Regions from separate parts of the Homo sapiens genome. Here region 2 is linked to region 1. The links come from fine-mapping of genetic effects on gene expression. A gene starts in region 1. The other region holds a variant in brackets. All regions are shown on one strand. Distances are between the middles of the regions. Region 1 holds the start of TESC (tescalcin). Region 2 overlaps FBXW8 (F-box and WD repeat domain containing 8).

Region 1 (5,370 bases):
TCATTGCCAGAGGAGGGCAGAGCCCGGGCAGATGGTGGGTGCCACTGCAGGGGCCCCCACAGAGACATCTGTCCACCAAGAATTTGGCTTTGCTGTATCCCTTCGGGACCACAGTTGGGGACAGTCCTGGACTTCCTGAAGCTCAGCTTTAGGGATGACAGAGTCTCTCCAGGGGCCCATTCTGGTTTGAACATTCCATCTCTCTGTGGGCTCCATCACGTCAGCCCTTGTTTACCCATCTGCTTTGTCACTGCCCGTGTGTCTGTCTCCTCACCCCACCAGGAGTTCTTCAGGAGCGAAGGTGGCATCTTATTCCTGGCTGTGGCTCCAGGACCTAGCAAGAGCCCTGAACATAGTAGGTGCTCAATAAATGTGCAATGAATAAATGATTGAACGAATGCATAAATTGTGCCTTGGTTTTTTCTGCCTTCGTGCTGCTCCAAGGATCTCCTGATTACTTCTCCAAGCCCTGCTATTAGGAATAAATCCTCCTCTGTCATCCTCAGCAAGACTTCCCGCCTCCCAGCTCCCTGCTGACTGGTGGTGGTGGCTTGTTTGGCTGTGGACCCAGGAGAGGGGATGAGGACTCTGAGAAGGCCTCCCTGAGGATGTGAGTTTCCACTGAGGTCTGAAGAGGAAGCGGGAGTGCAAGAGAGTTTCAGGCAAAAGGAACAAGTACAAGTGCTTGTCTAGTAGCTAACAGCGGTCAGTGGGTCAGGGTAGACAGGTGATCGGGTAGGACAGACTCCCTTCATACTAGATACCAGGGGCTTCCTTGAGATCACCAAGGGACAATGTGAAGCCATGTGCCCTTCTCCTTGTCCCAGGGCTTTTGTCCCCACCAGAGCAACTGTGCCAAGCAGGAGGGGCTGATGTCCAGAGAATGCCACTTCCTATCCCCCACATCAGACAGTTCCATCATTTAATCCTTGACTAGTTTAATATAATAAAATTCCAGGAACTGACATTTTAAGTTGGAATAAAATTGCTCCCAGCAGCTGTACGTAATGGGCTGGCTCAGCGGCTCAGAACTCCCAGGGGTATTGGGGATCCTTTCCTGATCCCAGAGGCCTGCCTGTTTCCAGAATCCTTTAAACCAAAATGCAGTCCCTAGGTCAGCTGTCCTGCCGGCTCAGATCAGCTGATGACCCACAGCCAACATCTTTCCACCTTGATCAGGTCTTGCACTGCCCTCTGGAGAGTGCTTTAAAATGCAGATTGCAGGTGCTGCCTTAGCTCTACGAGTGCAGACAGGCAGTGGAAGAGGAAGCTGGATTTTCCATTTTAGAGACAGGGTCTCGTTCTGTTGCCTGGGCTGGAGTGCAGTGGTGCAATCAGAGCTCACTGCAGCCTCTAACTCCTGAGCTCAAGCGATCCTTCTGCCTCATCCTCCCAAGTAGCTGGGACTTCAGACGCACACCATTGTGCCCAGCTCATTTTTAAAAAGTTTTAATTGCTGGTAGAGCTGGGGTCTTGCTATGTTGCCCAGGCTGGTCTCAAACTCCTGGGCTCAATCCTCCTGTCTCAGCCTCCCAAAGTGGTGAGATTACAGACATGAGCCACTGCACCTGGCCAAAAGCTGGATTTGCAACCAGGAAGGGGCTGATTCTGATGCTCTAGGAGGTTTTAGGACCAACTCCCACCCTCTACCTCGGGCTCTGAAAGTCACCTCCTGCCCCTGGAAAGGGCTGTGACCCTTGGCTTGAGCCTGTAGTCTGCAGGAATGAACAGCAGTTCTCAGCAGCCCCCTTCCCAGCAGCCTGTGAAACTGATGGAGGTAGGTCCACCCGAGTCCCCTCTGTGGGCACCGAAAAACTCCTGCCCCCTACCCTGTCCCCCTTCCTCCCCAACATTTATCATCGAGACTAACGTTCAGAACAGACCTGATACCTGACGGTCATTGATGGTGGTGTCACTAAGCACTGCAGAGCCTTCAGGAGAGCCTTGACCTTGATGTTCTGCCCTGGCTGTGTGCCTCTCCAGGGGACAAGATTCCATAGCGCCCACCAGCCTCTGTGGCCATGTGCTGTGTCCACGCCAGGCCCTCTGGTGGACATCTCATTAACTTATCCTTATTTTAAGGAGGAGGAATCACATTACACAGGCAACAGCATCGGCCCCAGTCACCCCAACTGGATGGAGAGCCAACCCCTCAAGCCATCTTAACCCAGAACTTCCCTAATGGGCATGGGGACCACCGGCATTGCCTTCTCTCCAGCAGTTTGTCCCAAATGCAGCCTCCTGGGCCCACTTCTGCAGTTGTTTTTTTGTTTGTTTGTTTTTTGAGACAGAGTCTTGCTCTGTCGCCCAGGCTGGAGTGCAGTGGCAAGATCTCAGCTCACTGCAACCTCTGCCTCCCAGGTGCAAGTGATTCTCCTGCCTCAGCCTCCGGAGTAGCTGGGATTACAGGCATGTGCCACCGCGCCTGGCTAATTTTTGTGTTTTTAGTAGAGACGGGGTTTCACCATGTTGGCCAGGCTGGTCTCGAACTCATGAGCTCAAGTGATCCGCCCGCCTTGGCCTCCCAAAGTGCTGGGATTACAGGCGTGAGCCATGCGCCCAGCCCGCTCCTGCAGTTTGAGGTGCCTCTCAGCCACCGGGCTGTGCAGGGCCCACACGGGCCGCCACGTGGGTGTGTTCACCTCAGAAGGTGCTGGGGCTTTCCTGGAAAAAACCAAAGCGCATGGTGCATTTTCAAATAGGATTATTATTACTGTTGTTCTCCATAGAGCTATTTCATGCTCGCTGACTTCCTTGACTATCTCAGTGGAGTTTCCCTCCTAAGATCTGGAGGATGTAAGGTGGGATGGGTTGGGAGTGGGCATAGCACCTCCCAGGGGTCCCACCCCTCCTACCCACGCCCCCAAATTTGCTCACACCTGCTTCCTTCCAGATCCAGCAGGTGTGCGGAAGGGACGAGGTACGTGAGCACTGCTGCACGAACGGGGACTCCAGAGCGGTGGGCTCCGGGGTCCCCTTCCCGGCGGTTTCCGGGCCGGGGCGGGGCGGGGCGCTCCCCTAGCCGCGCAGTGCGCGAAACCGGCGTGCGCTAGGACCGCGGCGCGCCGCCCTCCGCCGTTATATGAGGCCCCGCTCCGGCCCCACGCGGAACCCGCGGCTCCGAGCCTTCGCCGGCGTCCCGACCCGAGGCCGGACCCGAGGCCAGTCCCGCCGCTGCGCAGCCGAAGCCAGTGCGGGGCCTGAGAGGGACGCGCGCCCCGGGGCCCCCGCCGCGGGCACCATGGGCGCTGCCCACTCCGCGTCTGAGGAGGTGCGGGAGCTCGAGGGCAAGACCGGCTGTGAGTACCCGCGGGGGGCGGCGCGGGGACCGGGGCGGGACCTCCGAACGGCCACTGTTGGGGACCCCGGCCCGCCGCCGCGCTGTGTGACCTTGGGCCAGTGGCGGGCCCTCTCTGCGCCTCAGTCTCCTCCTCTTTCAAATGGGTCCCCGCTGGCCACCTCGCGGGCTGCGGCGAGGAGCTCCGCGGCGATGCTCAGTGCCGCAGCCGCTCAGCTTCGGACTGGCCCGGGAACTCCCTGGCCGGGGGACTGCGGACCGGGGAGGGAGCGGGGCCCAGGCTTCCCAAGCGCAGGGCAGGTGCCTCAGGCCGGGCGGGCAAGTCCCTCAGGCACCCCCGCTGGCGCGCGCGCCCCACACCTGAGAGTCGTTTGCATTCGTGAGCGCGAGAGCGGAAAGTTTTGAAGTCGGCGGACCTGGGTGGGAACAGGTCTCCGACGCTCCCCGGCCGGGTGACCTTAGTCGGGAGAGCCGGCGCCCGGCGCCTGCTTTCGTCCTCGCATCTGTAAAATGGGTTCAGGCAGCCTCATCCCCGCGGGTGGCTGGGAGACTTAGCGAGGCAGCGGCCGCAGAGCACTTTGCCCGGAGCCCAGCGTCCTCCCCTGAGTTCGCTGAGTCTCCCGGGACCAGCAAAGGCTGCGCGCCCCGCATCGGCCCGGAGGCGGGGAGCCCTGGGAGGCCTGGCCGAGCTGCCCGCAGGGAAATGGCGGAGAAAGCGCTTCTCTGCCCGAGTTCAGCCGGGCTGGGGACTTGGCCCTGGGTCCTGAACTCGGCATGGCCAGTTCTGCCTCTGGCTGTGGACCAGGGTGTGGACTGGAGACCGCGGGGGCCAGGTGTGTGGGCAAACCGGCTTTGGCGAGCGACAGACCGGCTGTGAACCCTGCCAGCTGCACTTCCTGGCTGTGTGACCTTGGGCTAGTCACTTTACCTCTCTGATTCTCAGCTTTCCTTCTCTGTTGTAAGAGTTCTCCTAGTACCTGGTAGACGCTCAGGAAATGGGAGCTGCAGATATTTTGGGAAAGAGCTAGCTCCTGGCACCTGCTTCAAGTGCAGAGAACCAGCGTCCAGTATTGATCACCAAGAGAGGGTGGCCCAGCTGTTTGTGTGTCAGCTGAAAAGCAACCCCTCTTGACCCCCAATCTAAATACCCCTTTCCAGGAGAACTGGATGAAAATTGCAGAAAACCATTAATAACTGGTGTGTGTATGCACGCACTTATACGTCTATATCTGTATCTCTGTGTGTGTAGAGATATAGAAATATCCAACTAAAGAAGTAAAAGGTGTGGCTCAGCATATATAATATGGTACCCTTTTTTCTGTTTTTTAAAAAAGGATCCTTTGAGCTGGAGCCGCAAAGTAAAAAGAAATAGAAAATGTAAAAAGAGGGGAAAATAAGAGTATACATTTGTAATTGCTATATTTGCAGACTGGAAGAATCCACCAGAAAGTACGAATGGATGCTTGGTGGGGGTTGCGGGGGGAGTGGAAGGGATGAAGGGAGAGTGAGCTTTTTCTCCGTAAACGTTTTTATATGTTCATTTTGAACTATGTTGGATATTTTACTTACTCAAAAAGTTTTATGCACTTCAATCCGAAGACTAATATGAGAGAGAAAGGAGGGATTCCTCTAGCTCTTACTTGCTTGGGTCTCCTCTGCTTTTATTATTTCTCATGTGCCCTCTCCTCGCCTCCCACTGCTTTGAATCTGGATGGGTGTCGATGGGCATTCTCTGTGGCTGGGATCCCCGTTGGAAGGGTGGGCTCTCCGGCAGCCCACGGGGCACTCGGGAATTCCACCTGGTTGTGGGTTTGACAGGGAGGAGGGGCTGCAGAGCATGCTGGGAGTCTTGTCAGTTTCCTGGGTCCAGCCTCCCACTGGGATGACAGATGCTGTGTTCCTGCTCTGTAACCTTCCTAGATGTAGCTGCAGCGGCTTCCCTTCTTGCTGCCCAGAGCTCAGACTTCATAACCCAAGGGAGATGGAGAGGGTCGGAGAGGAGGTTCTGAGGTTAGACTAGAGTAGGCAGGTGGAACTTTAGGTAGGTGGAAAGTTGCCCCCAGTCCTCCGAA
Region 2 (5,370 bases), 140 kb after region 1:
AAATATGCTGTGGTCCCAACTTTTGGGCAAGTGGGGACATGAAGCTTGTGGAGATTCAACACTTCACAACATAACGGAGGATAGGAGCATGACAGGTGGGCATACTGGATATCATGGCCATTGAAATGACCATTTCTAGTAGTTATACGCTGTCAAGAGTTTCTTTGCATAGATAAAGCTAACTTTAGACTATTCGTACCTAGTTCCAAAAATCCATAGTTGTTCATGTACAAAAAGAATTCTATCAATGTCAAAGAGAAAACATATTATTACCAATTATCTGGTATGGTATATTAAGTGACAGGAAAAGGTAGGCACTGACTTTTATTTTTCTATAACTACATTTATCAATAGATGACCTATGTCTATCCCCTTTTCACTATTCCCTTTGGGCTGAGCAGAGGCTAAAGGAAAAGTAGGCCAAGTATATTTAATATTTTACATCAAACAAGTTATTTGCTTAAGATGCTTTGGCCAGCCTTGTGTCTGGCACTAGCGCCCAGCCTGACAGTTCCAGTAGGAATTAAACACCAGTTTTAATGGGTGCTGTGTTCCAATGCCTACTAATGCATTGACGGTTGTTGGCCAACTTCTTCAAATAAAAGCAAGAGTGAGTGTATGTGTGTGAACATGTGTGTGTGCCCACGTGTACATATGGAGGGATTACAGGGGGGAGCCGGCCACAGCTGCTTAATTTTTGTAAAGCTTTTTTTTTTCCTTAATAGGGAGGAGGGTTGTGGTTACTTACCATCCTCATAAGCTGCTACTGCCAACGAGCTGTTTATCCTCACAAAGGAGACATTTGGCTGCATTCCAGGCTCATCCTCCTCGTCCTCTGATTCCAGGAAGGGGGCTACGTAGTCCCAGGTGCGGGTGTCCCACACTCTCACATCCCCTGATGTATATCTGGAAGAGAACGACACACTTGGTTCCAAAAGGAGATTGAAGAGCAGGGCTATGGTGGGGAAAATGCACAGAGCCTTACAACAACAGACAAGTAAGAATCGGGTGGTGTAGAGCCACTGCTGAGGCACTGTTTAGATGAGTGACTCCAACAGGAGAAAATGTCAACTAGATGACAGAAGGCTGTGAACACGCTTCACATTCTCACAGCACAATGGTGACAATTTCAAATGAGAAAACAATAATAAGACATGGGTAGCAAGATCTCCTTGCTTTTCCTTTTACACTATTACAACAATCTGCTCCTGCAAGCTCTCCCACTACAGGGATCACTTGCAGAAATTTGTATAAGCCCCACTATTTACCCACAAACGCACACACTCACTCACAGGAAAGACAGAGAGAGATGCTGCAGGGATACTCAGAACTAATGGTCTCACAGGCACAGGCTTTCTAATACCTCATCCATGCATCAGATTTGACTGATTAAAGTCCCTGAAGACTAATTGATTTGCTGAAACAATTAAATCTTGCCTTTAGCAGCCAGACAGTGCTGCCTGCTCATGAAAAGCTCTTGCTGAATGCGCGACACTGCCCGGTTTTGCCCACTTAGAAAATAGAAGTACTCACTCTCTCCTATGACTAGTGCCACTCCAACAAATGACTGCTTCCATCAAAGCCAGGCCAGGCCGAACCTACTCAGACTTGAGGCCCCCAGGATGACAGAATGGCCAGATGATAAAGTGGGGTGCTGCCCATCACCAAGGTATTTAAGCTATGTTGCTTATGTCTGCTGCAGAGGGTTTTACTCCACTTGTACAGCAACTGAGTGTTATGGGGGGAAAAGTGGTGAGAAATGCCTTTAAGGGCCTCATGATAGAACCACACAATCACAAAGATAGGCCAATGATTTTAAGGGGGTTCATAGTCTTCCTGAGGCCCTAGCCATAGTTCCTGCAGGGTTTCTTTGCCGAGTTGATGAGATAACCTCTGAGATTCACTGAGTCACTGAAATCTATGATGTGACACATTAGTGAAGTAGCTATAGAAGACCAATCTGGAATTTCTTGGTTTTTGTTTTCTTTTGTTTGTTTTTGAGACAGGGTCTCACTCTGTTGCCCAGGCTAGAGTTCAGTGGCACAATTTCGGCTCACTGCAACCTCCGTCTCCCAGGTTCAAGCAATTCTTCTGCCTCAGCCTCCCAAGTAGCTGGGATTATAGGCGTGCACCACCATGTCCGGCTAGTTTGTTTTTTTAGTTTTTAGTAGAGATGGGGTTTTCCCCCAGCTGGTCTTGAACTCCTGGCCTCAAGTGATCCACCCACGTCGGCCTCCAAAAGTGTTGGGATTACAGGTGTGAGCCACCACAGCTGGCCTCAGGTGGAATTTCTTATAGAGAAGTACTCTGATTCAGGAGTGCTTTGTTTACTAGTAGTACTGCACCCAAATTCTTAATCTACAGTAAATACATATATTGCACAGTCCAAAGGCCATTCTGTCACCCCAATTCCTTGGTTGGAGAACTTGGCTCTCTACCTGCAGGGTGGCACCCAGAGAGTGCGCATGTGGGATAAAGAGCCAAACGGGAGAGACGTGCTTTCTGAACCTGGCCTGCTGTACCTCTGGGTTGACCACTGATCCTCCAGTAAACAGAAA[C/T]ACAAGATGAATGTCCTTAAGCCCAGCGACGTGCAAGCAAGGGCAGATCCTGAGATCACCCCAGCCAAAGCACGGCCACTGGCCCCCAGGCTCTCCAAGCAGCGGTCAGCTCACCCTTCTCAATGAGGAACCCTATACCAGAACACATACCCTGGAGCTCACTGCCCTCAAAATACCGGGCTCAGTGTGACACCCTGAGAACGACTCAGGCCATTTGCTGGAGTAAGGCCACTTGCTTAGCTACAGAGACACAACAGATGAGACATGTTTGAATGTCTAGACTGGGGGACTAGATTCTTAAGGTTAAATTCTATGTGACAGGAACCAGCCAATTCAGGAAAGATGAGAAGGATGGCAACGTCTTTCAGAAATACACAGATGGTAAGTGAAAGAAAGATAAAGGGAATTCAGATCAGAAAAGTAAGGCACGTTCAGAAAAAGAAGTACATAAACTAGGAAACTGTATTTCCTTCTTGCCAGTCTCTGTCCTTCTGCTTCCTGCTAACCATGTGTCACACCACACCAGCAGTCTGCACACTGTTTTCAGTGGTGCCCCCCCAGGGGACACAGTGGGGAGGCGAGGGTGGAGAGGAAAGACGGTTTAGGTGGCCTCAGCTCCAGCCCCCCAGCTCCCTGAACACAAAGAGTTCGGAGCCAAAATGACAGCAAAACAACAAAGCTTGGGAAAAAGGTACTTTAGCTGCTGAACCAGACAATAGTGAGCTGTGAAACAGAAACTGTTGAGCCCGCTCCTTACTCAGAGAAAGAGAAGAGAGTGAGGGCAGGAACCCCACAGATAACAGCACTCTATTCATATCTGAGGGGCTCCTGGGCAAGCCTTTCTCCCACAGAGGAGGTTGGTCCACTCACACTGTGACTCCACACGTCTAAAATCAAATGCTTCAGCTCATGGCCAAGCTAGCCTGTGTCTGAATTCCTTATTTTTATCAATGGGATCATCAGTCCCAGGTCACTGGTACAGAAGGAGAGGGGCCCCTTCAACACCGCTGTGGCCCACTACCCGCACCACTATAGATGCTCAGGTGCCAAGCTTGTTCTGTTCTGCTCATTCCCAGAGAAGCCACCCTGGTCCAAATCCCCCAACACCTCACATTCACACCCGACTACTACAGGCTCCCTGATTCGGAGCTTCTTCCATTCAATCCTCCCCCCACAAGCCAAGCCCTTCAAAACACCTGACTGCATGAATCTTTCTTCTGGAACCATTTCCTTTACTTCCTTTCTCCCTCACATGCCACACTACACCGCACTACGATCTACCTTCACGGCAGCCTGGACGTCTCCGTCATGGCAGTGGTGCATGTCTGTGATCATCTCACTGTTCATCTCCCTACCAGCCTGAAGCTTCTGAGCTCAGGGTCTGGGTTTTGTTCATAGCTGTGCATGCAATGACTGGAACAGACAGACTAGAACAGCGCTTGCCATATACCCAGAGAACCCTCTATAAAGTCTTACATCTTAACACCTTATTGAATGAAATTTTAATTATGAGACCTACTGAAAACCCACCACAAACTAACTTCCACCCCTCTCCCCAGCCTCATTTTCTACTCTCCCTTCACACGGGCCGGCTTCCAGAGAGGATCCCAAATGCTCTTGCCTCTGAACTCTGATTCTCTGCCCCACCTTGCTGCAGTACCTCACCTCCTCACCTCCCAGCCCAGTGGGGTCCAGCCTGGGCTGCACATTAAATTTGCCTGGAATGCTTTAAAAAGTGCAGATACAGGCCGGGCACGGTGGCTCATGCCTGTAATCCCAGCACTTTGGGAGGCTGAGGGCAGGGGCAGATCACCTGAGGTCAGGAGGTTGAGACCAGCCTGGCCAACAGGGTGAAACCTCGTCTCTACTAAAAATGCAAAAATTAGCCAGGTGTGGTGGTGCGTGCCTGTAATCCCACCTACTTGGGAGGCTGAGGCAGAAGAATCGCTTGAACTGGGAGGTGGAGGTTGCAGTGAGCCGAGATTGTGCCACTGCATTCCAGCCTCCCAGACCAAATAAATCTGACCATTTGGGGATAGAACCAGGCATCAATGTTTTCAATATACAGCCAAGATTGAGAATCACCAACCCAGCCCAATCCTACCAACCCCTCAAGGTCTAACACAGGCCCTCCCCTCCCCTCCTTGAAGCCTGAAGCTTTCTGACTCAACTACTATGCCCTTTATCTGAAGAAACTGCTTTTACTAATACAGTCCTTATGCATTGATCGTCTCCTCAACTTGACTGTAAAGTCTTCAAGAAGGCCCTACCGCAGTGCCATAGCCTCCATCACAGTGCCTTATGCAGAGCTCATCATAAATAGTGACTGAAAGGGGGTGTCCGCAGGTAACAACCTGACTGGCTTGAGGGGTACCTCTTTATTTCCACTGCCCACTTTCCAATGGTAATGATGAGTGAAACACCCAGAATGTACACACTGATGTGCATTAGACTGCTTCCACTTATTTCCAAACTGAATAAAAACTATAAAACAGGGGATAAGCTAAATTATTTCAATAAACATGAAATTTTCCATATATCTATTTAAATTAACTTCATTCTCCATGACCAAAAGGTATGATAATAACATAAATGTTTTGCTGCAAAATGACTCAGGAGGTAAAATATAAAAGCCTCTACGTCTCCTGTATTGACAGGAACTGAGACTAAATATGCTACTGCAGCAGGTACTGCATTATGACTCAGCAGCGGGCTCTCAAATCTAACCTAAGTGAAAGCCACAATAGCATGGGAGGCAGCCTCCATGCTCATGAACTTGTGCTAAGGAAACAGACATCTTTGGTAGGGTAAA

The links. PIP is the estimated chance that this variant, and not a neighbour inherited with it, causes the effect.
Region 2: its variant is the best candidate, but not a certain one, in a credible set for the expression of TESC in monocytes (TOPMed, PIP 0.60).

The regions. Positions count from the first base shown.
Region 1 is chr12:117,097,154-117,102,523 of GRCh38, reverse strand. It overlaps TESC (tescalcin), which reads left to right and starts at 3,108. Exons shown (of 8, transcript NM_017899.4): 1 at 3,108-3,299. The coding sequence starts at 3,242. TESC-AS1 (TESC antisense RNA 1) reads right to left here and starts at 3,057. Exons shown (of 3, transcript NR_120464.1): 1 at 2,880-3,057; 2 at 1,884-2,071. RefSeq lists silencers at 1,892-2,109, 2,976-3,114, 2,853-3,372, 3,433-3,542, 3,613-3,712.
Region 2 is chr12:116,960,233-116,965,602 of GRCh38, reverse strand. It overlaps FBXW8 (F-box and WD repeat domain containing 8), which reads right to left. Exons shown (of 11, transcript NM_153348.3): 5 at 749-906. Among named protein-coding and RNA genes, the nearest start is that of FBXW8, 52 kb to the right of the region's middle. The variant C/T (reference allele first, on the strand shown) is at 2,559.